2 separate regions of the Homo sapiens genome follow, and region 1 is linked to region 2. Evidence: fine-mapped expression QTL. A gene starts in region 2. The other region holds a variant in brackets. All regions are shown on one strand. Distances are between the middles of the regions. Region 1 has its middle 36 kb from the start of SPANXN3. Region 2 holds the start of SLITRK4 (SLIT and NTRK like family member 4).

What was found. PIP is the estimated chance that this variant, and not a neighbour inherited with it, causes the effect.
Region 1: its variant is fine-mapped to the expression of SLITRK4 in whole blood (TOPMed, PIP above 0.99). The same link has a PIP of 0.9 or more in lung.

What each region holds. Positions count from the first base shown.
Region 1 is chrX:143,475,466-143,487,538 of GRCh38, forward strand. No RefSeq gene overlaps it. Among named protein-coding and RNA genes, the nearest start is that of SPANXN3, 36 kb to the right of the region's middle. The variant G/C (reference allele first, on the strand shown) is at 6,547.
Region 2 is chrX:143,630,100-143,642,172 of GRCh38, forward strand. SLITRK4 (SLIT and NTRK like family member 4) reads right to left here and starts at 6,002. Exons shown (of 2, transcript NM_001184749.3): 1 at 5,636-6,002; 2 at 1-1,059. The coding sequence starts at 1,009.

The DNA of each region.
Region 1 (12,073 bases), 150 kb before region 2:
CAGTTAACATATAAAAATGCTTATTTTAAAAATTATTCATCAATATTGAAAAGGTCATGCTATTAAAAAGCACATAATATTCCTTTTTTTAAATATTTTACTGCATTTTTGAAATCTCCTGAATGTTATTTTCCTAAAATTACATTTTCTAAATATAGGGTACCCTTAAAATGCATCATTTAAACTGGGAACCTTTGAGAGGTAAAGAGGGCTGTGACAATACTTTTGGCTGATCACAGGAACAAACAGACTGCCTCAGGCCATCTGAGACATAATATTCCTCTACTCAAATGTATATTAGTCAACTTTTACATAGTTAAATTTGGTTTAAAAACATCCAGATTCCTAGTTAACTTTCATTCAGGTTATAAAAAGATAGGTAGCCAATACAATTAATCTGATGACCTGTATTATATATTGACACGGTTTGGCTGTGTCCCCACCCAAATCTCATGTTGGGTCATAGCTCCCATATTTCCCATGTGTTGTGTGAGGTACCCAGTTGGAGGTAATTAAATCATGGGGGCAGGTATTTCCCATGCTGTTATCATGTTAGTGAATAAGTCTCTTCAGATTTGATGGTTTTATAAAGGGGAGTTCCCCTACAGAACCTCTCTTGCCTGTTGCCATGTAATACATGACTTTGCTCTTTGTTTGTCTTCTGCAATGATTGTGAGGCCTCCCCAGCCACGTGGAACTGTGAGTCAATTAAACCTCTTTCCTTTGTAATTACTCAGTCTCGGTATGTCTTTATTAGCAGCATGAGAACAGATTAATACAGTAACTTGGTACCAGTAGAGTGGGATGCTGATGTAAAGATACCTGAAAATATGGAAGTGACTTTAAAACTCCGTAACAGGCAGAGAGGTTGGAACAGTTTGGAGGACTCAGAAAAAGACAAGAAAATGTGGAAAAGTTTGCGGCTTCCTAGAGACTTGTTGAATGACTTTGGCCAAAATGCTGATAGTGATATGGACAATAAAGTCCAGGCTGAGGTGGTCTCAGATAGAGATGAGGAACTTGTTGAGAACTAGAATAAGGTCACTCTTGCTATGCAAAATCACTGGAGGCATTTTGCCACAGCCCTAGAAATCTGTGGAACTTTGAACTTGAGAGAAATAATTTAGGGTATCCGGCAGAAGGAATTTCTGACTGGCAAAACATTCAAGAGGGAGCAGAACATAAAAGTTCAAAAAATTTGTAGCCTGGCTATGCATTAGAAAAGAAAACCTCATTTTCTGGGGAGAAATTTAAGCCTGCTGCAGAAATTTGCAATAGTAATAAGGAACCTCATGTTAATCACCAAGACAATGGGAAAGATGTCTCCAGGGCATGTCAGAGACCTTTGTGGCAGTGCCTCCTATCACAGACCTGAAGGCCTAGGAAGAAAAAAAAATGCTTTCCTGGGCTGAGCCCAAGACGCCTCCCTGCTGTATGCAACCTAGGGACTTTGTGCCCTGCATCCCAGCCACGGCAGCTGTGGCTAAAAGTGGCCAAGGTACAGCTTGGGTCGTGGCTTCAGAGGGTGCAAGCTTCAAGCATTGGCAGCTTCCGTGTGGTGGTGAGCCTGTGGTTGCACAGAAGTCAAGAATTGAGGTTTGGGAACATCTGCCTAGATTTCAGAGGATATATGGAAACACCTGGCTGTCCAGGCAGATGTGTGCTGCAGGGGCACAGCCCTCATGGAGAACCTCTGCTAGGGCAGTGCAGAAGGGAAATGTGGGGTCAGAGCCCCCACAGAGTTCCCACTGGGGCACTACCTAGTGGAGCTGTGAGAAGAGGGCCACTGTCCTCCAGACCCCAGAATGGTAGATCCACCAAGAGCTTGCACCATGTTCCTGGAAAAGACACAGACACTCAGCATCAGCCCATGAAAGCAGCCAGGAGGGGGGCTGTACCATGAAAGCCACAGGGACAGAGTTGCTCAAGGCCATGTGACCCCACCTCTTGCATTGATGTGACCTGGATGTGAGACACGGAGTCAAAGGAGATCATTTTGGAGCTTTAAGATTTCATTGCCCTGTTAGATTTCAGACTTTAATGGGGCCTGCAGCCACTTTTTTTGGCCAATTTTTCCCATTTGGAATGGGTGAATTTGCCAAACGCCTGTACCCCCTTGTATCTTGGAAGGAACTAACTTGCTTTTCATTTTACAGGCTCATAGGTGAAAGGGACTTGCCTTGTCTCAGATGAGACTTTGGACTGTGGACTTCTGAGTTAATGCTGAAATGGGTTAAGACTTTGGAGGGCTGCTGGGAAGTCATGACTGGTTTTGAAATCTGAAGACGTAAAATTTAGGAAGGGCTAGGGACAGAATGATATGGTTTGGCACTGTCTTCAGTTAAATCTCATCTTGAACTGTAGCTCCCATAATTCCCACACATCATAGGAGAGACCCAGTGGGAGGTAATTGAATCATGGGGACAGGTCTTTCCTGTACTCTTCTCATGATAGTAAGTCTCATGAGATCTGATGGTTTTATAAAAGGGAGTTCCCCTACACAAACTCTCTTCTCTGCTGCCATATGAGACATGACTTTGCTCTTCATTTGTCTTCTACCATGATTGCGAGGCCTCCCCAGCCATGTGAATCTGTGATTCAATTAAACCTCTTTCCTTTATAAATTACCCAATCTCGAGTATGTCTTTATTAGCAGTGTGAGAAGAGACTAATACATATATATTTTTGTTTCTTTTTCCCCGTGTCATTTCACTTATGACACACAAACATTATCATTTTTGACAGAGGAGGAAGTAGTTTATGCAACCAGTCAGAAACTCACAGATCAGTAAAGAGAACTAGCATTTATTCTAGGTGTCTGGACTGCCAAGTCAGATAATAAATGACAGAATTGAGATTAAAATACAAATATGTCTACCTTTAGGTCCATGTTCTCTCCACCCACAGCACAACAACACTTATTAATGCTTTCTCAGTGGGTGGGGATGAAAACAAATCATATAGCTCATGAGTTGATGAATATTTAAGCTGAGCGACGGGTAAATAGAAGCTAATTACACTAGTCAATGTTTTGTTTGTGTTTGTCATTTTCCATAATAAAAAGTCTGTTTTAAATAGCTTTTCTTCTTTTCACTTCACTGACTTCAACTTTCCTTAAATGCTAGGTTTAGTATTAGTGCATATGCATTGCCATTTTTCTTTAAGTTTTTATGATGATAACATTAATATATACTCATTTAAAATATTCAGAAAGTACAAGTGTATAAAATAGAAAATAAATCATTTATAACCCACTTACCCGGAAATGAATATTTTAATATATTGATGTCTCATTTTCTATTTCATTTTTTCTTTTTATTGTGTTTTGAAATACACATGAAATTTACCAAATTAAATATTTTAAAGTGTACATCTAAGTGGTATTGAGTATATTCACAACGTTGTGCAACCATCAACACCACCTAGTTACAGTACCTTTTCATCACTACAAAGGAAATTCCAAAACTAATGTATCACTTAATCACTCCCCATTCTCCCCTGGCCCTGGCAACCACTAACCTGCCTTCTGTCTTTATGTATTTGCCTATTTTGGACAGTAACATATAGATGTAAAATATTATATATAATATTACATATATGTAATATTTTACATATATAAATGTAATCATATAGTATTTGTTTTTTGTGACTAGTTTATTTCACTTAATTTTTTCAAGATTCATTCATACTGTATAATATATCAGTACTTCATTCCTTTTATGCCTGAATAATGTTTCATTGTATACATATACCACATTTCATTTATCTGTTCATCAGTTGATATGAATTGGAGTTGCTTCTACCTTTTGGTAATTTTTAATAATGCTAATGTCTACAGTATTTTTAAATTAACTGTGTTAAGTTATTCTTACATTGCTATACAGAAATACCTAAAATTAGTTAATTTATGAGAAAAAAGGTTTAATTGGCTGATAGTTCTGCAGGCTGTACAAGGATGGTGCTAACATAATTTAGCTTCTGGGGAGGCCTCAGGGACCTTTTACTCAATACAGAAGGTGAAGGGGAAGCAAGCAAATGACATAGTGAAAGCAGGACAAATCACATAGTGAAAGCAAGAGAGAGTGAGAGGGAGGTGCCACACACTTTTAAATGATCAGATCTCATGAGAACTATCACAAAGATAGCACCAAGCTGTAAATGATCCATCCCCTTGATCCATACACCTCCAACCAGGCATTGAGAATTGCAGTTCAACATGAGATTTGGGCAGGGACAAATAGCTAAACTATATCGCTGACTTTTCATTTTTAAATAACATTTAATTCACATGCACTTGTAGTATATAATACAGACAAATTTCCCTGTACTCTTTACCTACTTTCCCCCAGTGGTAGCTTCTTTAAAACTATGCTACAATATCACCTCCAGGATACTGATGTTGGTACAGTCAAGATACAGATTAGTTCATCACAATAAAACCTCATATTGCCCTTTCATAGCCACACACACACCTGTCTACTGCTACCATTCCCTCAGTAACCCCAATAACCATGAAACTCATATTTTCTATAATTTTGATATTTCAAGAACATTTCATAAATAAAATTATATACTATGTAACATTTGGGATTCTTTTCCACTCAGGATAATATTTCGGAGTCTATGCAGGTTGTTTTATGTGTCAATGTTTTATTCTATTTTATTGCTGAGTAATATTCTGAAATCTGTGTGAACATATGTTTCCGTTTCTCTGGGACAAATGCACGGTTGTATGTATAGCTTTTGTTGTTACTTTTTATTGTTTCTTTTTTTTTAAGTGCCAAACTGCTTTGTAGAGTGGCTTCTTTGCCTTTTAATATTTTATTCGGTTATAACTAAGTGGTTCTGTTACTCTGGATTCTTGCCAGCAGTTGGTATTGTCATTACTTTTTCTCCTTTAACTTTTATTTGAAGTTCAGGAGTAATATGTAGGTTTGTTACATAGTGTTATATAGGTAAACGTTTCATGGGGGTTTGTCATACAGATTATTTCCTCACCCACCCATTAAGCCTAGTATCCATTAGTTATTTTTTCTGGTCGTCTCCATCATCCCAACCTCCACCCTCTGATAGGCCACTCTATTGCTCTGCTCTATGTGTCTACGTGCTCTCATTATTTTGTTCCCACTTATAAGTGAGAACATGCAGTATTTGGTTTTGTGTTCCGGCATTAGTTTGCTAAGGATAATGGCCTCCAGCTCCATCCATGTTCCTTCAAAGGATATAATTTTGCTAGTTTTTAGGGCTGCATAGTATTCTGTGGTGTATATGCACCACATTTTCTTTATTTAATCTCTCATTGATGGACATTTTGGTGGATTTCTTCCTGGTTCAGTCTTGGGAGTGTATATGTGTCCAGGAATTTATTCATTTCTTCTAGATTTTCTGGTTTATGTGCATAGAGGTGTTCATAATATCCTCTGATGGATATTTGTATTTCTGTGGGTTCAGTAGTAATATCCCCCTTGTTGTTTCTGATTGTGATTATTTGGATCTTCTCTACTTTTTTCTTTCTTAGTCTAGCTATCAATCTATCTATTTTATTAATTGTTTCCAAAAAGCAGTTCCTAGATTCATTGATCTTTTCGATGGTTTTTTTGTGTGTATGTCTCAATGCCCGTATTAGTCAGTTTCTCTACAGGGACAGAACTAATAGGATAGATATATATGTATAAAAAGGTATTATTAAGTATTAACTTACACAATCACAAGGTCCGACAATAGGTTGTTTGCAAGCTGAGGAGCAAAAAGAGCCAGCCCGAGTCCCAAAACTGAAGAACTTGGAGCCTGATGTTCTAGGGCAAGAAGCATCCAGCACTTGAGAAAGATGTAGGCTGGGAGGCTAGGCCCGCCTCTCCTTTTCAGGTTTTTCTGACTGCTTTATATTTGCTGGCAGCTGATTAGATTGTACCCACCAGATTAAGGGTGGATCTGCCTTCCCCAGCCCACTGACTCAAATGCTAAATCTCTTTTGGCAACACCCTCACAGACACACCCAGGATCAATACTTTATATCCTTCAATCCAATCAAGTTGTTACTCACTATTAACCATCACAGTTCCCTTCAGTTCAGATCTGATTTTCTTTATTTCTTGTCCTCTGCTAGCTTTATAGTTGGTTTGTTCTTAGTTCTCTAGTTCCTCTGGCTGTGATTTTAGGGTGTCAAATTGAGATCTTTCTAAGTTTTATGTGGGCATTTAGTGCTATAATTTTCCTTCCTAACATGTCTTAGCTGTGTCCCAGAGATTCTGGTATGTTGTATCTTTATTCTCATTAGTTTCAAATAACTTCTTAATTTCTGCCTTAATTTTATTATTTACACAAAAGTCATTCTGCAGCACACTATTCAACTTCAATATAACTGTGTGGTTTTGAGTGAATTTCTTAGTCTTTATTTGTAATTTGATTGTGCTGTGGTCTGGGATACTGTTTGTTATTATCTCAGTTCCTTTGCATTTACTGAGGAGTATTTTATTTCTGATTATGTAATCAATTTTAGAGTGTGTACCATGTGGCAATGAGAAGAACGTATATCCTGTTGTTTTG[G/C]GGTGGAGAATTTTGTTGATGTCTGCCAGATCCATGTGATCCAGTGCTGAGTTGAGATCCTGAATATCTTAATTAATATTCTGTCTCAGTGATCTGTCTGATGTTGTTGGTGAGGAGTTTAACGCTCCCACTATTATTGTGTGGGAGTCTAAGTTTCTTTGAAGATCCCCAAGAACTTGATTTATAAATCTGGGTGCTCCTCTGTTGGGTACATGTATATTTAGAACAGGTTGGTCTTGTTGAATTGAACCCTTTACCATAATGTAATGCCTTTTTTGTCCTTTTTGATCTTTGCTCAGTTAAAGCCTGTTTTGTCTGGAACTAGGCTTGTGACCCTCGCTATTTTCTGTTTTCCATTTGCTTGGTAGATTTTTGTCCATCCCTTTAATTTGAGCCTATGTGTGTCATTGCATGTGAGATGGGTCTCTCGAAGAAAGCATGCCAATGTGTCTTGGTTCTTTATGCAGCTTGCCACTCTGTGTCTTTTAATTGTGACGTTTAGCTCATTTACATTTAAGGTTAGTATTAACATGTGTGGATTTGATTCTGTCATCTGTTAGCTGGTTATTTTGCAGGCTTGTTTATGTGGTTGCTTTTTATTGTCACTGGTCTGTGTACTTCAGCGTGTTTTTGCAGTGGCTAGTAATGGCCTTTCTTTCCATATTTAGTGCTTCCTTTAGGTGCTCTTGTAAGGTATGTCTGGTGGTAATGAATTTCTTTAGCATTTGCTGGTCTGAAAAAAATCCTACTTCTCCTTCACTTATTAAGCTTAGTTTGGCCAAATATGAAATTCTGGGTTGGAATTTTTTTAGGAATATTGAATATTGGTCCCCAGTCTCTTCTGGCTTGTAAGGTTTATGCTCAGAAGTTTGCTGTTAGTCTAATGGCTTCCCTTTGTAGGTGACCTGCCTTTCTCTCTAGCTGCCTTTAACATTTATTCTTTCAGTTCAGCCTTGGAAAATCTGACGATGATGTGTCTTGAGGATGACATTCTTGTGAAGTATCTTACTGGGGTTCTCTGCATTTCCCGAGTTTAAATGTTGGCCTCTCTATCTAGGTTGGGAATGTTCTCATGAATGACATCCTAAAATATCCTTTCCAAGTTGGTTCCATTCTCCCTATCTCTTTCAGGGACACTAATGAGTCACAGATTTGTTATCTTTACATAATCCCATATTTCTCAGAGGTTTTGCTCATTCCTTTTTATTTTTTTTCTCTATTCTTGTCTGAGTGTCTTATTTCAGAAAGCCAGTATTCATTGTCTGAGGTTCTTTCCTTCAGTTGGTCTACTCTGCTATTTATACTCGTGATTGCATTATGAAGCTTTTGTAGTGTGCTTTTGAGCACACTACAAAAACATTTGTTAAAATTTATTAAACTACATTGATACTATTACAATCACAAAAGTCCATAGTTTACATTAGGGTTCACTCTTAGTGTTGCACATTCTATGGACTTAGACATATGTATGAAATGTCTCCACAGTTATAAAATCATACAGAGGAGTTTCACTGCCCTAGACATTATCTATGCACTGCCTATTTATTTCTTCCTCCCTCTAACCCCTGGCAACTACTGATATTTATTACTGTTTACATAGTTTTTTCTTTTACAAAATGATATAGAATCAGAATTGTAAAATAAATATATCCTTTTCAGATTGGCTTCTTTCATTTAGCAATATACATTTAAGGTTCCTCCAGATCTTTAGACGGCTTGACAGTTCACTTCCTTTTAGCACTTAATAATAATTCATTGTTGGAGTGTGCCAGAGTTTATTTATCCATTAACCCACAGAAGGATATCTTGGTTGCTTGAAAGATTTTGGCAATTATAAATAAAACTGCTTGACAGAACAGACCATGTCTATTGTCAGTACTGAGTTGGAGGTCACTGCAGCACTCTCACCAGGGTGTATGGGAGATAATAAGGAAACCCTGGGAACTCATCATCATGTTGTTCCCCAAGTCCTAAAGTCCCTATGAAGTCTGGCATCTTCTTTTCACTTCTCAGAGTCTTCCTATGCTTATTTGTTGTGTTATATGTAAACTTTTTTAGTTATAGAATAGTAAGGCTATTCTATCTTTGTAGAATCAAAAGTAGTCCCTCAGAGTCTAATTTTATGCATATAAATAATATATTTTGCCTAAATTGGCTCAATCTTAAACTTATTTATTTAAATAAGAATTAGAAAATTCTTTAAAAAATTTTAGAAGAATATTTAAACAAAACATAAAGTCATAGTTGGTTTGCATGTTTGTTTGATTTTTTATTTGTAAAATAAGAAACTAGAACTGGTTGTCCTCTAATATCTTTCTATCTCTGGCAATCTAGGATCCTAAATACAGTCTAGAAATAGAATAAATGATGGTTCCAACCCACTTAGTATAAAACTTCAGTCTTCATCATTGTAATAAATCTTCAGAGATGTATCTTGACCTTTTAACTTCAGGATCTAATATTTTCTATTTGACAGATAATTCATTCAGCCTATACAAGAGGTTAATTTTGTTTCTCCATGCAAATCTCTGGACTCAGTACAAATAGAATGTTTGTGGTTGACTAATTGCAGTGTCAATATCATAATTATTAAAAGAATGTATGAAAATAGAAAACATATGTTCACATCAAAGCTTCAAGTTTGTGTGGTCTTTCAAACAGTAGGGATCATCTTGGTTAAGGCAGCATGAGCTCTGGTGTACACAGACCTCCAGCTATGTTCACATTAGAGTGAATCCCAACTTCCTCACTTCTTACCTGTGTGAATTGGAAAAGTCACTTAACCTCAGATACTTCATCTCTAAAATAAGAACACTTATCTATCTCATGAATTTGTTACAAGGATTGCACAAAAATAATGTCTGGAAAAAATAAGCCCTCAATAATAACAGCTAATGATAAAATCTTCATCATGAAAATACATATCATCAAAATCATCATCTCTATGCTTAATCTATATAGTAGAAAATGGTGACTGTTGTTAAAATTAAATAAGCTAAATGGGTATAAAATGCTTAGATTCATGCTTAGCATATATTTTACACTCAATAAATATTCAAACTTATTGCTTATATCTATAAATTTATTACAGTTTCTTACCAACTAATACTGGAATATCAAGTCAGTACAGTGAAGACTGAAAAAACCTTGATTTGTAACTGAACTGACTAGCTGTTTGCACATCAGGCAGTCATGCTCTCACTTTGTCAGCTATGTAAATACTTTAAATGGCCTAAATTACTCTAGCGAATTCAAGACATCTGCTTTAAAATGGAAAACACTTAAAACAATCATAAGGCCTGATTTTCCTAAGTTTCCTAATCATTTTTAAGTACCTAAGATGTGGAGGCCTTGATTTGAATTTGCCAATTTCTGTAAGCTTGCAGAGTTGAGTCTTAGTCATAGGCCTTTCCATCAACCACAACCTCAATGCGTTGTGGAAGATGTAAAATTTTCATCTAGTTTTATAATATAATAGTAAAGTCCCAAACTTTTCTGAGAATATCTAAATGAAGCCTCAAAATTACTCCAAGCCATGTCTTCTTGTGAAAGCAATACACAACCAACTGCATTTAAAACGTAATGATCATATTCAAAAATGATGTCAAAAGTACATTCAGACAGTGTAAAGTTATGGTACAATCTTTAAAAATATAATCTGCAGTTTTTGCAAGCACCATGAAATATCTTTTATTAAGTGAAATTTTACTGACCACATTGCTTTTCTGCCACTCTGCTCTGGGCACACACACCTTCTGAAAACCAAATTTATTTAGAATTGGCTTATGTATAACAGGAAATGATTATCTTTGCTCACTAATAGAGAAATAGTTAAGCAATTGATCCGTTCATGGAATTATGATAAAATAATTAAAAATATTATCTTGGAGACTTTAGCAGCATGAAAAAATAATTGTGTTGCAATGTTCGATGATAAAAACACTATGCAAAGATGTATCTGGGAAATGTTTTAACAATGTAAAATATGCACACATATTGTCAACAGCAGTAATGGACACGGAAAAAATGGAAACAACTGATGGGGTAATGGGAATGTAGATACACTTATTCCCATTGATTCTCATTAACAGTTGCTGGGACAATGAAATAATGAAGTGGAACCCAATCCTGCAAGGAATTTGAATTTATCAGCTTTTTATTTTTCTAATCACATTTCTGCGTCCTATCTCTAAAGCTTCATTGCCACTGCTGGGCTTTAGAGATGCTGAATAAGCTTGAAAGACCTGGCTCCTTTGTCCGTCCCCTAGCCAAACTCTCCACACGTTGTGGCTGCACGCTGACGCATGGTTTCGATTCCCTTCTACAGACCACTGGTTAACGTCTACACAGCTTCACTCACCAGGCATAAGATAACTTCATCCGTATTGGAGCATACTGGACCATTCCAGAACATTATTTCTTTGCCTCTTAGTATCTCTGCACACATCTCAGCCCTACTTTAATCCCCTGAAAAATGGAGTAATACAGTCTCCATGCTAAGGTATCCATTTCCCTCAGCTTTTTCTCTCCCCAAAGTCTGGTCTGCAAAAAACCTAACCTCTGCTCAGCCATTCATTCACAATCCCTTTGCCCTTCAAAAATTCCCAGGCCTCTGTTTCCTGTGACTCCCTTCACATCTCCTTGTAAGTTCTTATGCCTCTGGAATAAATTCTAAGACAAGTTTTGCCAACGATGTGATACAACTTGCATAGCAATTTCATTGCTTTAGCAGTGCCAACCAGATTATAAGCCTTGGTTATCCTAAAAAACTCAGTGTATCATTAGTACGCATGTCAGCTGCTCTGGAAGTTTGATAAGACGTACAATTACAAATTTTCATGTCATTATTATTTTGGAAAGACAATGTACTTGCTTACCTTGCTACTGAAAAAAAGCATGCACTTTATATAAAAGCCATCAGATATTTTTTCAATTAATTCAGTTTCCTTGAAACTATGTCAGAAGAGTAACAAAAATACCCAAAGAAGAGAAAAGCTATGATATAGTCATGTCTCATATAATTAAGATAAATTTCAAAATGATATGGCACTGCCATTTCACCCCATCAAAAGCTCCTCACAAAATAAAGAGAAACTTTGTGGCCATTATATAAGTTCAAAACCAAAGTATATTCCTTATTCCATCTATAGTATTTGTACTAGACCAATCTTGCATTACTATAAAGAAATACCTGAAACTGGGTAATTTTAAAAAGAAGTTTAATTGGCTCACATTTATACTTGGAGGAAGACAAAGTGGGATCAGGCATCTCATGCAGCAGAGCGGAAGCAAGAGGGGAATGGGAGTTACCACACACTTTCAAATGACCAGATCTCAAGAGAACTCATTCATTATTGCAAGAACAGCACCAAGCCATGAGGGAATCTGCCCTCATGACCCAAACACCTACCACCAGGACCCACTTCCACCACTAGGGATTACATGTCAACATGAGATTTGGGTGGGGACAAATATCCAAACCATATCAATATGGCGGTAAAAAAGTAAAAGCTCTGGATTCCACCCG
Region 2 (12,073 bases):
GCACCCTTGTTTGGTAAGACACAATCTGACTGAGATTGCGGTTGGAGAGGGCTTTGCCTGCAACGATTCCAGAGATCTTGGAAGGATTTGTTGTTTTTGGTGGTTTAGTTACTAATCTGTGTAAAGATGTTTGGGTAGTGTGACCATTGGGAGTGGTGTAGCCATTTTCCAGCTGAGATGGAGGCAGGATGCGCACGTCAAAATCACTGCCGGTGCCCATGGGACATAGCTCTTGTTTGTTGGTTTCTTTTAAAAGCCTTCCATATAAGTCACTGGGAGTTTCACAGATAGCTTCTCCTATGTAAATGTTATATGGCATGTTCTCCAGCCAAGCTTTTAAGGGCAATAAATCACAGCTACAGTTCCAAGGGTTATCTTCCAGTTGCAATTCAACGACACGGCCAATGTGTTCCAGAACCCCGATATAAGGGAGCTTCTGGATTCTGTTCCCTCGTATATCCAGATGGGTCAAAGATGCGAATCGGAAAATATTATCAGGAAGGAATGAAATCAGATTGTCATTAAGAATGAGAACTTTCAGTTTGTGGAGCTTATTGAAGGCTCCTCGTTCAATATACTTGATTAAATTGTAGTCAGCCTGGAGATACTCCAAGTTCTCTATGCCAAGGAAAGTGTCAGCTCGGAGAATCTTTAATTCATTGTTGTTCAAGTGCAACTGCTTTAATGCACTGAGCCCAAGAAAGGCTCCTCCCTCAATGTTCTGCAGTTTATTATTCCCCAGATGCAGGGAGACTGCATGTGAAAAATTCAAGAATGTATTTGGATACAGAATATTTAAAAAATTATTTTGGAAATTGAGGTGATAAAAATTAGACCAAGGTGGTTTCAGCTGATTTGGTCTGTAGACTGAAACCTTCTCACAGTTGACATAGAGCACATTCTCAACTGACACGCAGGAACACACATTGCAAATTTCCACCGATATGTCAGAATCTGCATTTGTCGAAGAAATCAGGGCTGACAAAATCAGAAACAGCCACAGAAACATCTTCTTGCAATCAGCAAACAACTGTATGCTTCTGAATAAAGAGAAATAATCTAAAAAATAAAAAGAAAACATTTTTTCAATGGTCATTACTTGAAAAATTACTTGTATGTAAATCATACCATAGTGAACACATGGCTATAATTACCAGAGTTGTATTTGTAAGGCAATCAAACCTCCAAATAGTCTCACTCAGTCGAACAATAATAACCACTAAAACTGCCATACATTTTATTTTCCATACCTGTGGTTTATACCAAATTCACATGTGCAGAACACACAACTAACAGTAGGAAAATATATTATCAATCATGCTTAAATCTTGCAATCTGAAAATATTTTTTCCACGTGGACCGTCAAACTCTGCCCTTGAACACAGGCCTTAAGCTTCCTACTTGCACTTCAAATGACCGAGACCATCAAGTATGCCATCGAGTTTGTACCACAAAGCCATTTTGATTAGTGGATATCTATTCTCTAAGCTTCAGCTAGATAGAGAGGCTGAATTAAAAAAACAAAAACAAAAACATTAGAGCCCAGAGTTCACTGGAGGATGGAAATGGGAGGATTGGGCTGCTGTAGCAGGGACTGTTAAAAGACTAAGGAACAGTGACCTGGGAAGAGATTTGCTTGTGCTGTAGCCCCATAGGTAAGTTCATTGCTGTCAATCGGTTTACTCCTGTACACTGCTGCCTTCAAAGACACAGACGACGCTGTGCGGTTCTAGAAAAACAACTGAGTAAGGGATGGCCAAATTTTATTTTCTGGTAAATAAACAGTCTCTAATTTCCTGTCAGTCATCTCCCAAAGAGGGAGCAAAAAGCCTTTTGTCTTGGAGCCTCTGAAAGCAGCAGAGTAACCTGCTTACTCCTGCATTGCTTAGCTAATCTCCAGGCAGTCTTTCCACTTTGAGAACTGGCTCTCTTGCCTCCCTGGCCCTCTCCCACATCTTTATTTACCATTTTGAACCCAGGTCCGACTGATCCTCGGCTTAACTGCTTTATCTCTTTCACTTTGACCACAGACTGCAACTGCTGAGGAAGGGGAGTTCACACAACACAATCTTTGAGTAGCTTTTGCTACAGCACCAAATATGTTCAGTACAGCACATTTTTCGTCCTAAAATCATCAGTTCCAAACACCCACCCGCCCTTCCTAATATTACCACCCCATGTCCCTGACTGTAAACGCATAAAGAATCACTTGTTGGTAGAGTTTAATGCTTAGCAAAATAACTCATCGTTTTCAGGTCCTTAAATACTGCATATATACACAAACATACACGATGCTTCCTGGAAAAGATTAAACAACACAAGCAGAGTGCATTTTATTGATACTATTTTAGCAATATTAGTCTTTTCCATTGTGAATGGGAAGCTGGGTGCAATTTCAATATCGTTATCTCCAAATATTAATTAAATACATAAAATACCCAGGAACACACAACAAGGAAATGATGCAAAGAAAGAAGTGTCGCACAGAAACTCCTTTGTTTATTTTACCCACGAGGAATCAGCTAGTGGTAAAACCGAACATGTCTCAAGGTAGACAACCCATTAGCCATGACCCAGGAGGATTTGCATTTTAAGTAGTTTGGTTCAGAATACAGCCAGCACTGCTGAGATGCTATTTGGCTGCCATATAGACGTGCATTTCCCCTATTCACCATGAGAGCATGATTGGCATTGCAAAAAGAAGTCATAATTCTTAACTATGACATCACCTAAAGCAACTTTCATTGTAAAATCAAAATTTCACTTGATATTTTTTGCCTTGTTATGAATGTGGTTTTCAACAGCTATTTTGGTTCAGTTGAGTCATTTCTTGTTACTAAACCACCACCCCACCCACCTCAAAACAAAGAAACCCAAAAGCAACCAAACTAAAAACCAAACGCAGAAAAAAAAAAATCCTTATAATCCGAATTCAGTACAAAAACAAGAACCAGGAATCTCAACACATCTGAAAATGCATAAGGAGCTGCCCTCCTCCTGGTGATTGCTACTTTAAGTAGCAAGGGGGGGAAAAGGCACTAGTAAGAGCCAGGAAGTTCCCAAATGCAGCTCTTGTGAAACAGAGGAAGCCACAAGCAGCTGGAGGGGCAGGCAAGAGAGAGAAAGAGTCCAGTTGGTCCACCAAGGAGAGAGGAAAAGAGGTACTGAAAGGGCAAGAGACCATGGAAATGTGGAGAAAGGAAGAAAAAGAACTCGGAGAAGGGAGCTACAAAGAGGGTAAAGGGAGCACTGAATGTATGCGAATAAAGCCTCACACTCCGGTGGTACCACTGAAACATGCACATTTAAACATCAAGGGAAAAACGCAAAAAAGAAAAGAAAAAGCCCACAAAGTACCAGCTGGGTACCAAGAGCCTTCTCTGTGGCTGCTGGGAGCTGTCCGTCTTCCTCTCGGTGCCCTGAAAGACCCTTGGCTCTCACGACCAGCCAGGACTGAACAAACCTAGCCCGACCAAAAACAAATCCTGCATCCACCGGAGTGCAGCGCCTGGCACTCCGCGACTGGGAGGAGAGAAGCGGCCTGAGGGGGGCAGAACACTGATGGGCTTCAGGGCGGTGGGCCGAGGTGGCTCCCCGAGAGCTCCCTCGGGAAACCCCGCTGGCCCGCCTAAGGCTCGGATGGAGGTGGAAGAGGTTCGCGGAGAGACCCGGCCATTGCCGCCCGGGTGCGCTACCTCGGGCGGGCGGCGAGGAGGCTGGAGGGGCTGCTAGCGCGTACCGCAATGTTTTGCCGCATCCCTGTTCCCGGAGCCGGCCGCTCAGCCCCCTCCGCGTCAGGGGCCCAAGCAGCAGCCTGGCGGTCCGTGTAGCGGAGGCGGGGTACCGCGCGGGATGTCGCGGGGGCCTTCAGTCCCGCCGCTCACACATTTCTCCGCGCGCTCCCGTCCCACAAGGGGCAGCTGCCGGAGTTTCAGTGGACCTCTCTAGACCCAGGCGTGCGGTGGGTGAGGAGGAAGAGAGGCCAGATCAGGCCGCCTCGAAGACGTTGGCACTAGGGAGTCACTGACCTGCTTGCCACGGGCAGAGTGACCCTGTGGTTTTGTGGCTGCGAGCGGCGGCCCAGGCTCCCCCTTGCCTGTTCTCCCTCCCTGGCCAGCTACAAAAATCCTGCTCTCACCATGCCAGAAATCAGCTCAACATTTAGGCCCCTTGCAAAGTCGCGCTGGCAGCGCTCGCCTGGCTTTGCAGAGCTTTTAGAGTTACCCACCGGCTCTTCCTCTGGTATTCCTAGTCTTGCCGAGCGCTAGCAATCTCCGACCAACCCGCGGGCCACTGCCCCGAGCCTCAGATCCACGTCTGCGGAAAGTGGCTGCGAGTGGGGTGCAAAAATAAAGCCCAACCCAGCCCAGCGGCCCGACAGCCGGAGCCACCCGAGACCTGTACAACTTGCCCCGCCGCCCTGGCCGCTTGGGGTATGGTGGGGGGGGGGGCGGGCAGCGATGCCAAGGACACCCGGATCCTTTCCGGTCCTCAGCGGCATGAGACCGCGTCGTAGGCAGGCAAGTGGGAGGTGGAGGGCAGGATTAGCCACCTCGGCCACTTTGGCCACTCAACCGGCCCCAAACCAACAGGACCCAAACTAAAAATAATAAGCTACCTGCCCCCTCGGCTCGCGTGCGCGCGCGCGAGATCTCTCTCTCTCTCTCTGTCTCTCTCTCACACACACACACGCACGCACACGCGCTACTGAGCTGAGCGGGGAAGAGGCAGCACGCGTGTCGGTGCAGCTTGTGCAGCCCCCGCTGAAAATTCACCCACCTCTAGAGCCCAGCGTCTGGTGCAGGGCCCGCGGCGCCGTGACCTGCGCTGCTGTTTCCACGATGGTATCTATGTGATTCCGGACAGAGCTCCTCCGCGCCCGCTCGCCCGTCAAACCCACGGAGCAGCCCCAGCAGGCGAGCAGGCGGGCCGGCGGGCAGGCGGGCAGCGGCGCGCGCGCGCACCCGAGCAGACACCGCGCGCGCACCCAGCGCCTAGCACACGGGCTGCACCTTTACATACACGCGCTGAATCCCCGCCCCCGCTCTCCACCACCCCCCCCCACCCCGCACACAAGCAGTCCTTCCTCCCGACACTCGACCACTTTGACCCCCTCACATTCCTGAGCTCCTACCCCCGTCCCCCATCCAGACATGCCCATTTGATTCCTCTTCTACCCACACACCCAGAAAGACAGCGCGCTTTCCTCCCGGCATCCGCCCCCTCTTTTTGCCTAAAACATTCCCTAGGGAGGAGCGACCCCTTTCCTCAGGCGTGGAGACCCCAGTCCTCTAACAAGGGCGCACTCGCCTCCATCCCCCCCACCACATACACACACACTCGAGCCCTTTTCTTCTCTTCCAGTCCCCTAATAACGAAGGAACACACACACACACACACACACACACACACACACACACACACACACACGGGGCATTCCTTTGAGAGAGCAACCAAGAAGCCAGGAAAAGCCAAAGAAACACTGGAGAGCCTGGGGGAGGGGGGCCGAGGGAGATCGATAGGGTCGTCGAGTCTACGCGGAATTGAATAATTACAGGATGGAGGGGAATGAGTCAACAACAATGACATTCAAATGCAACAATCATACTTGGATTTTGTATCACGGGTACGGTACCTTTGGCTAATTGTCACCCCGCAGAACGGAGGGCTCCTGGAATACTTCTCCGTGGCGGTCGATCCTGGAAGGAGCCTTCTTGGGAACCAATTTCCTAGGATCCAGTAGTATTCGCACTCCCCCTACCTGTCTGCGCGTAAGGGGCCAGGGGCTTTAAGGCGAAAGTGTGAGGCTTTAGCCTAAAGTGAGACTATTTAGCCGGGTTAGAAGGAGACGGGTTAATTATCCGCACCTTAGAACTCCGTGGGCCTTTGGTGCAGAATGGGTTAAGCCGGATGATCTTGGAGCTGGGGGTGGGGATAGGGGATAGGGGATAGGGGTTGAGGAAAGAGAGGCGTGGGACTGGGAGAGATGCCGCACTTGCGACCAAAAGAAAAAAAAAAAAAAAAACTACTTTGGCTACTGAGCATGCCCAGTTCCCAGCTCAAGCCCTATAAGGGAGGCATTGTGTGCATTCCACTTCTCCGGGCTTTGGTGGTGACCGGGAGGGGAGTTTGACTGGGGAAGGGGGTGGTAGTTGGGAGACATTAGGGAAAGGGGGTTGGAGAACAAGGTTTGAAGCTTTGGGACTGCTCAGGAGGGACTGTGAAGAGAGAAAGGGAAGGGACCCACGGAGTACCTTCGGGAGACGGGGAGAAGGAGAGGAAATGGACTAAGAAAAGTCACTTCAGTCGCCCCTCATTGTGTATACCAAAGAGGCTTTAGCAGCTGAATCTGAAATATCCAGTGGCTGCAAATCCAACGTGTGGATTGTCTAGGCCCCTTCTTCTACCCTTTTTGTTAGTGCTTCCACAAGAGATAAGAAATATTCTGAGGAAGGGCCAATGTTCAAACCAGTTTCATGCAAATTGATAATTTCGTTAATAAGCTTGTTAAGAAAATAAATAAACCTGGGGGAGGGGAGCAGAGAGGAGTTGGCTATCATGTATGTATTTCAGATACCTGGCTTTCCTAAACAAAAGGCATAAACATTGGATGTGCTCCCATCCCCCAACCTTGCTGTTTTTTGTAGGAGCTTGGCTAAGAAAAACAACTCTCTCTCTCTTCGTGTCTGTGGGAATAAACTAGCTTTAGGTAAGTAGAGCTAAGTTATAAATGGGAAGTATTTCCCTAGGACTCTTGGTAGCCTATTATTTGCCACATTCAGGTAATACTGCCAGGCCCATTTCTTCAGGACCAGTGTGTTGCCCAATTTACTTATTCAAATCCCAGCGGCTCTAGCCACAATAGAGCACAACCGGTATCCAGAAATGTTCTTGCTTAAAAATGAAAAAAAAAATCTTTAAGCTAAAACTAGCAACAGCTTTGAAACCAGAATTTGGCTGTCTGCCTGAACTCCTACAGTTAAACATTTACCATAATTGGTTGATGTTTAAAGGCCCCAAATCTAGGTAGAAACATCTGATGGGCAAAGGATTTATTACATTATTTGTGAATAATGGTCTACCTTCTGTATCATCTATAGTAGTCATTCATATACATGTTTCATTGTTTTTCATTTTTTGTCATTTTATGGGACTTCCGTCAGGTTATATTCACACAAATGTTCACCGGGCACAACATGTATACAGAGATGCACGTACAATATGTAAATGAATACTTAAATAGATATGCGTGTATGGGCATATTTCTTTATGACCTTGCTAAATATTGTGTCGTTCATGAAGAACTCTTTCTCTACCTTCACTCCACATTGCCTTGAAAACTGTAATCATCCTCTCTTTTACAAACAACCTAGAGACAGAAATTGGGCAGCATTGGTAAAATTTATCTTATTCAATGTGAAATCCATTATGAAATAGCATTAAGGAAACACTAAAATATTTGTCTATAACAGCGTATGTAATTGTGCAGCTCCTTTTAGCAAAGTGAATGATGTTTCCTTCATAGGTAACAGCTGCAGAATGTTGAAAAATCCCTCTACTCTTGCACACTTGGACAAAACAGATCCTGCTAATTAATAACTCACATTTGCATTTTATTGTGTAATGCAGTTTGAAAGTAGTAATGGGTATCAAAACAAGTTGGCATTTATTCTAAATGCTAACAATTCAGGAAGCTGAATATATTTTATCCAGATAGGTGAAATGTTTGTCTTTTACTACAAATGTTAACAAGAGTCAATAGAATGAGCAAAAAAAGTTTACCTGAAAATTCTAAGTAATGTGATAACTGAAAAGGCCAGATTTGGACAGTAAATATCAGATGATTTAAATGCCTATCTTTATTCAACTTTAGAAACTGTTCTGAGACTTGGCTATATTTAACTGCAATAACTGTGAAATGTTATTTTTCATATGGATATGGAGACAAATCTGAAAGCCACTGTAGCTAGATCATCGATAAATTACAATTCATAATATTCCTAAGAACTTATCTGTGATTAATATTCAACTTTTTTAAATGAATGCTTTAAAATAAAATGTTTTGCTACTTAAAAAGATAAAGTGGACACTCATAAAATAAAACAGAAGTAACAACTTCCATGTTTTATGCTTATTTTGCTTTCAAAGTAATTAACCCAATCCTTTAGTCCCACAGTCCCTTTTCCGTCCCCTAGAACTACAGGTGACATCCCAATAGAACAGTAGGAAATGACACAGAATTGCTAGCTTAACAAAGGAAGTGAATATATACATAAATAAAAGTGTTAAGAAAACTCCAGCACTATTTATGGCCATTGAAAGAAAAACAAAATTGATGTTCTTCCTAAAATGTAAGCATGCAAATATTGTGAGTTTTGCAATACTCTCACGGTCTTCCTCCAAATGTTTTACCTTATTTCATCTTGACTTTTTAGGAGTACAACCAGAATCGTAGGTCTACACTGATATACTGTGTCTCCCTCCATCAGGGAAAAAAACAACTGCACTAAGAATTTCAACAAGATCCTGTATACCCTCCGTTCCGAAGGCAGTTTGGAATTAAGTCATTAAAACACTACCAACCGAAAGTGATTATAATGCCAAGTCTTGGCCCTAGTCAGCGGTCTTTCACTTTCACTGTATTCCTCATTTATCTTGCCTTGTCTTAGGCTGCTGCTCAAAATCAAATCAGCCTTAATTTTCGTATCCAGGTATCACAGATGATTCAGTGTATTTTAATATTGAAGATTTATTTATATTCTGGCATTTTAACAGTTACAAACTTGCTATTTCTCTTTCATTTTTATTTATTTATTTTTGAGACAGAGTCTCACTCTGTCACCCAGGCTGGAGTGCGTTAGTGTGATCTCGGCTCACTGCAACCTCTGCCTCCTGGGTTCAAGCAATTCTCCTCCCTCAGCCACCTGAGTGGCTGGGATTACAGGCATGTGCCACCATGCCCGGTTAATTTTTGTATTTTTAGTAGAGATGGAGTTTCACCATGTTGTCCAGGCTGTTCTCAATCTTCTGACCTCAGGTGATCCGCCCATCTCGGCCTCCTAAAGTTCTGGGATTACAGGCGTGTGCCACCGTGTCCGGTCACACACTTGCTATTTCTCTAAGTGGAATACAAGAAAGTTCTTAGGATGTTAATATATCTTCTGGGAAGAAATGTTTCCATGATCAAATAAGTTTAAAAGACCCTTGGTTCCGTAAAGCTAAACATTTTATTTTTACTTTGGGATTTTTCAACACAATTAATTATGTTTAAATGAGCTTTTATTTACCAAGGGAAAAGGGATATGGCATGTGGCATTTCACAGACTTACTTAACAATGGAACCCTTTTTTCTATCTATATAATTTGAAAAACATACTAATAGCCCATTTTTACAAATTTTCTGGAATTTAGAACATGAAAGGAAGTTTTCAGATCATAATTAACCCATTCAATAGTAGCTACTGTCTGTTGAGTGCCTCTTCTTTGCTGTGCTGCCTACAAATATTATTTCATTTAGTTCTATGAACAAGGAAGGGATTATCATACTTATTTTAAAAATGAGGTTAAGTGACCAGGCATGGTGGCCCATTCCTGTAATCCCAGCACTTTGGGAGGCTGAGGTGGGGAGATCACTTGAGCCCAGGATTTCAAAACCAGCCTGGGCAACATGGGAAAAATCGTCTCTACAACAAATACAAAAATCAGTGGTGCATGGTGGCACATGCTTGTAGCCCCAGCTGCTTGGAAGGCTGAGGCGGGAGGATCACTTGAGCCCAGGAGGTCAAGGCTGCCATCAGCTGTGGCCATGCCACTGCGCTGCAGCCCAGCCAACAGACTGAGACTCTCTCAAAATAAAATAAAATAAAATAAAATAAAATAAAATAAAATAAAATTCAGGGAAGGTAAACAGTTTGCCCGAGGTCACATGGTGAGTAAGTGATGGTCAAGATTTGACCCCAGATCTTTGAGGTTTTTCCAGTACACCACATTTTCGTTTTCACAGGGGGATTAGGGAATTTTTAACTTTGAAAGCAGAATAGACTTGAAAGCTGGGCAGGGTGACTTAACGCCTGTATTCTCAGCACATTGGGATGCCAAGACAAACAGTCTGGGCAGCAAGGTGAAAAGCCATCTCTTTAAAAAATAAATTTAAAAAAATAGCCAGGCATCGTGGGGTGCACCTGTAGTCCCAGGTACTAGGGAGGCTGAGGTGGGAGGATCGCTCAAGCTTAGGAGGTCAAGGCTGCAGTGAGCCATCATCAAGCCACTGCACTCTAGCCTGAGCGACAGAGTGACCCTGTCTCAAAAAAAGAGAAAGGGATAGATTTGAAAGCAGAATAAATTTTCCAAAGATGAATACTTGAGACATAAATGTTTTCAAGTATTAAAGTATGAATACTCAGCACAGGAATAAACAAATAAATGACATTAAAAACAGTTCACATCAATTATGCATGACAAGGTCTCTTGAATCAACTGATTTTACCTTTTGCCAGTAGTAGCCTTGTTCTATCCATTCTGCTCTTTCAACTCTCATACCTGAGTTGATTCTGAATCTGTGATGATGTCTCAAATGTTCCTTATTAGGGATAATCACTTTCACTATCACCAAATGAAGCCATGTGTATTAGTCAGTGTTCTCTAGAGGGACAGAACTAATATATATACACACACACACACACACACACACACACACACATATATATATACACACACTTATATATTTTATATATACATATATATATATATATATATATATATATATATATATATATATATGGGAGTTTATTAAGTAGTATTAACTCACATGATCGCAAGGTCCCCCATTAGGCTGTCTGCAAGCTGAGGAGCAAGGAATCCAGTCTGAGTCGCAAGGCTAAAGAACTTGGAGTCTGATGTTCAAGGGCAGGAAGCATCCAGCATGGGAGGAAGATGTAGGCTGGGAGGCTAAGCCAGTCTCACCTTTTTACATTTTCCTGCCTACTTTACATTCCCTGGCAGCTGATTAGATGGTGCCCACCCACATTAAGGGTGGGTCTGCCTTTCCCAGCCCCCTGACTCAAATGTTAATCTCCTTTGGCAACACCCTCACAGACACATCCAGGATCGATACTTTGCATCCTTTAATCCAATCAAGTTGACGCTCATTATTAACCACCACACCAAGCAAAGCAGTAGTGTTCATCCCTAGACTTATTCCAGTTAAGACAAAAGGATTGTTATAAAATAGGATACCAAATGAATTGGAAAATGTGAGACTAGTTGATTATTTGATTAGGTTATATCAATTAACCTGACCTTCCATTTTGCTCAGACTTCTTTATAGTACAGCTGGTAACCTGGTGTCCTTTTCAGAAACTCAGGCATCAGGTGTGAATGTATTACAGTCTGTGTAGCAAGGCATTGGCTAATTTTTCAAATAACACTTCACTCAGAAATTATTATTTCTAGAATAATAATAAAGAGGGGTATGTTGTTTTGCAGGGTCTTTGTAACTTTGGCCCCTAATGGGTACTTGTCCCTATGGCTAACTAGAACTACCTATGTGGTTTAGAATATTGCTAAGCCAGGGATGCTGACAAAATAGTGTCTCTTTTCTATATATTCTCTAACTTGGAGAAATCTCACTGTCAAAGATTAGGGCCCAGCCACAAGCTCAACAGCCCTCAGACAACTCAAAGATAATAAAGATCATAAAATAAAAAATAGGAAGTTAATAGCTAAACAGTCTAGTGTGAGAATTACTCTTATGGGCTGTAAAAGTTCCATAACACCAACTGAAGCTTTATCAGAGAGATAGTAAGTTGATAAAAATCTTTCTGTTTTTATCGTGTTCCACTCTATCTCGGGAACCACAGTGTTGTCCCTAGCTAGCAAAACATTATTGTTTTGCAAAAGCATTGAGGGTCTTTTTTTCAATGCTTTTATAACAATATTACTTTTCCTTAGAAATATAAACTTAAATCTTTCTTTCAAAAGTGATCTTAACTGGAGTGAGATAATATCGAAAAATAACTTGAAAGAATGGATGAGACTCACTACTTGATAGCACAACAGGGTGGCTATAGTCAAT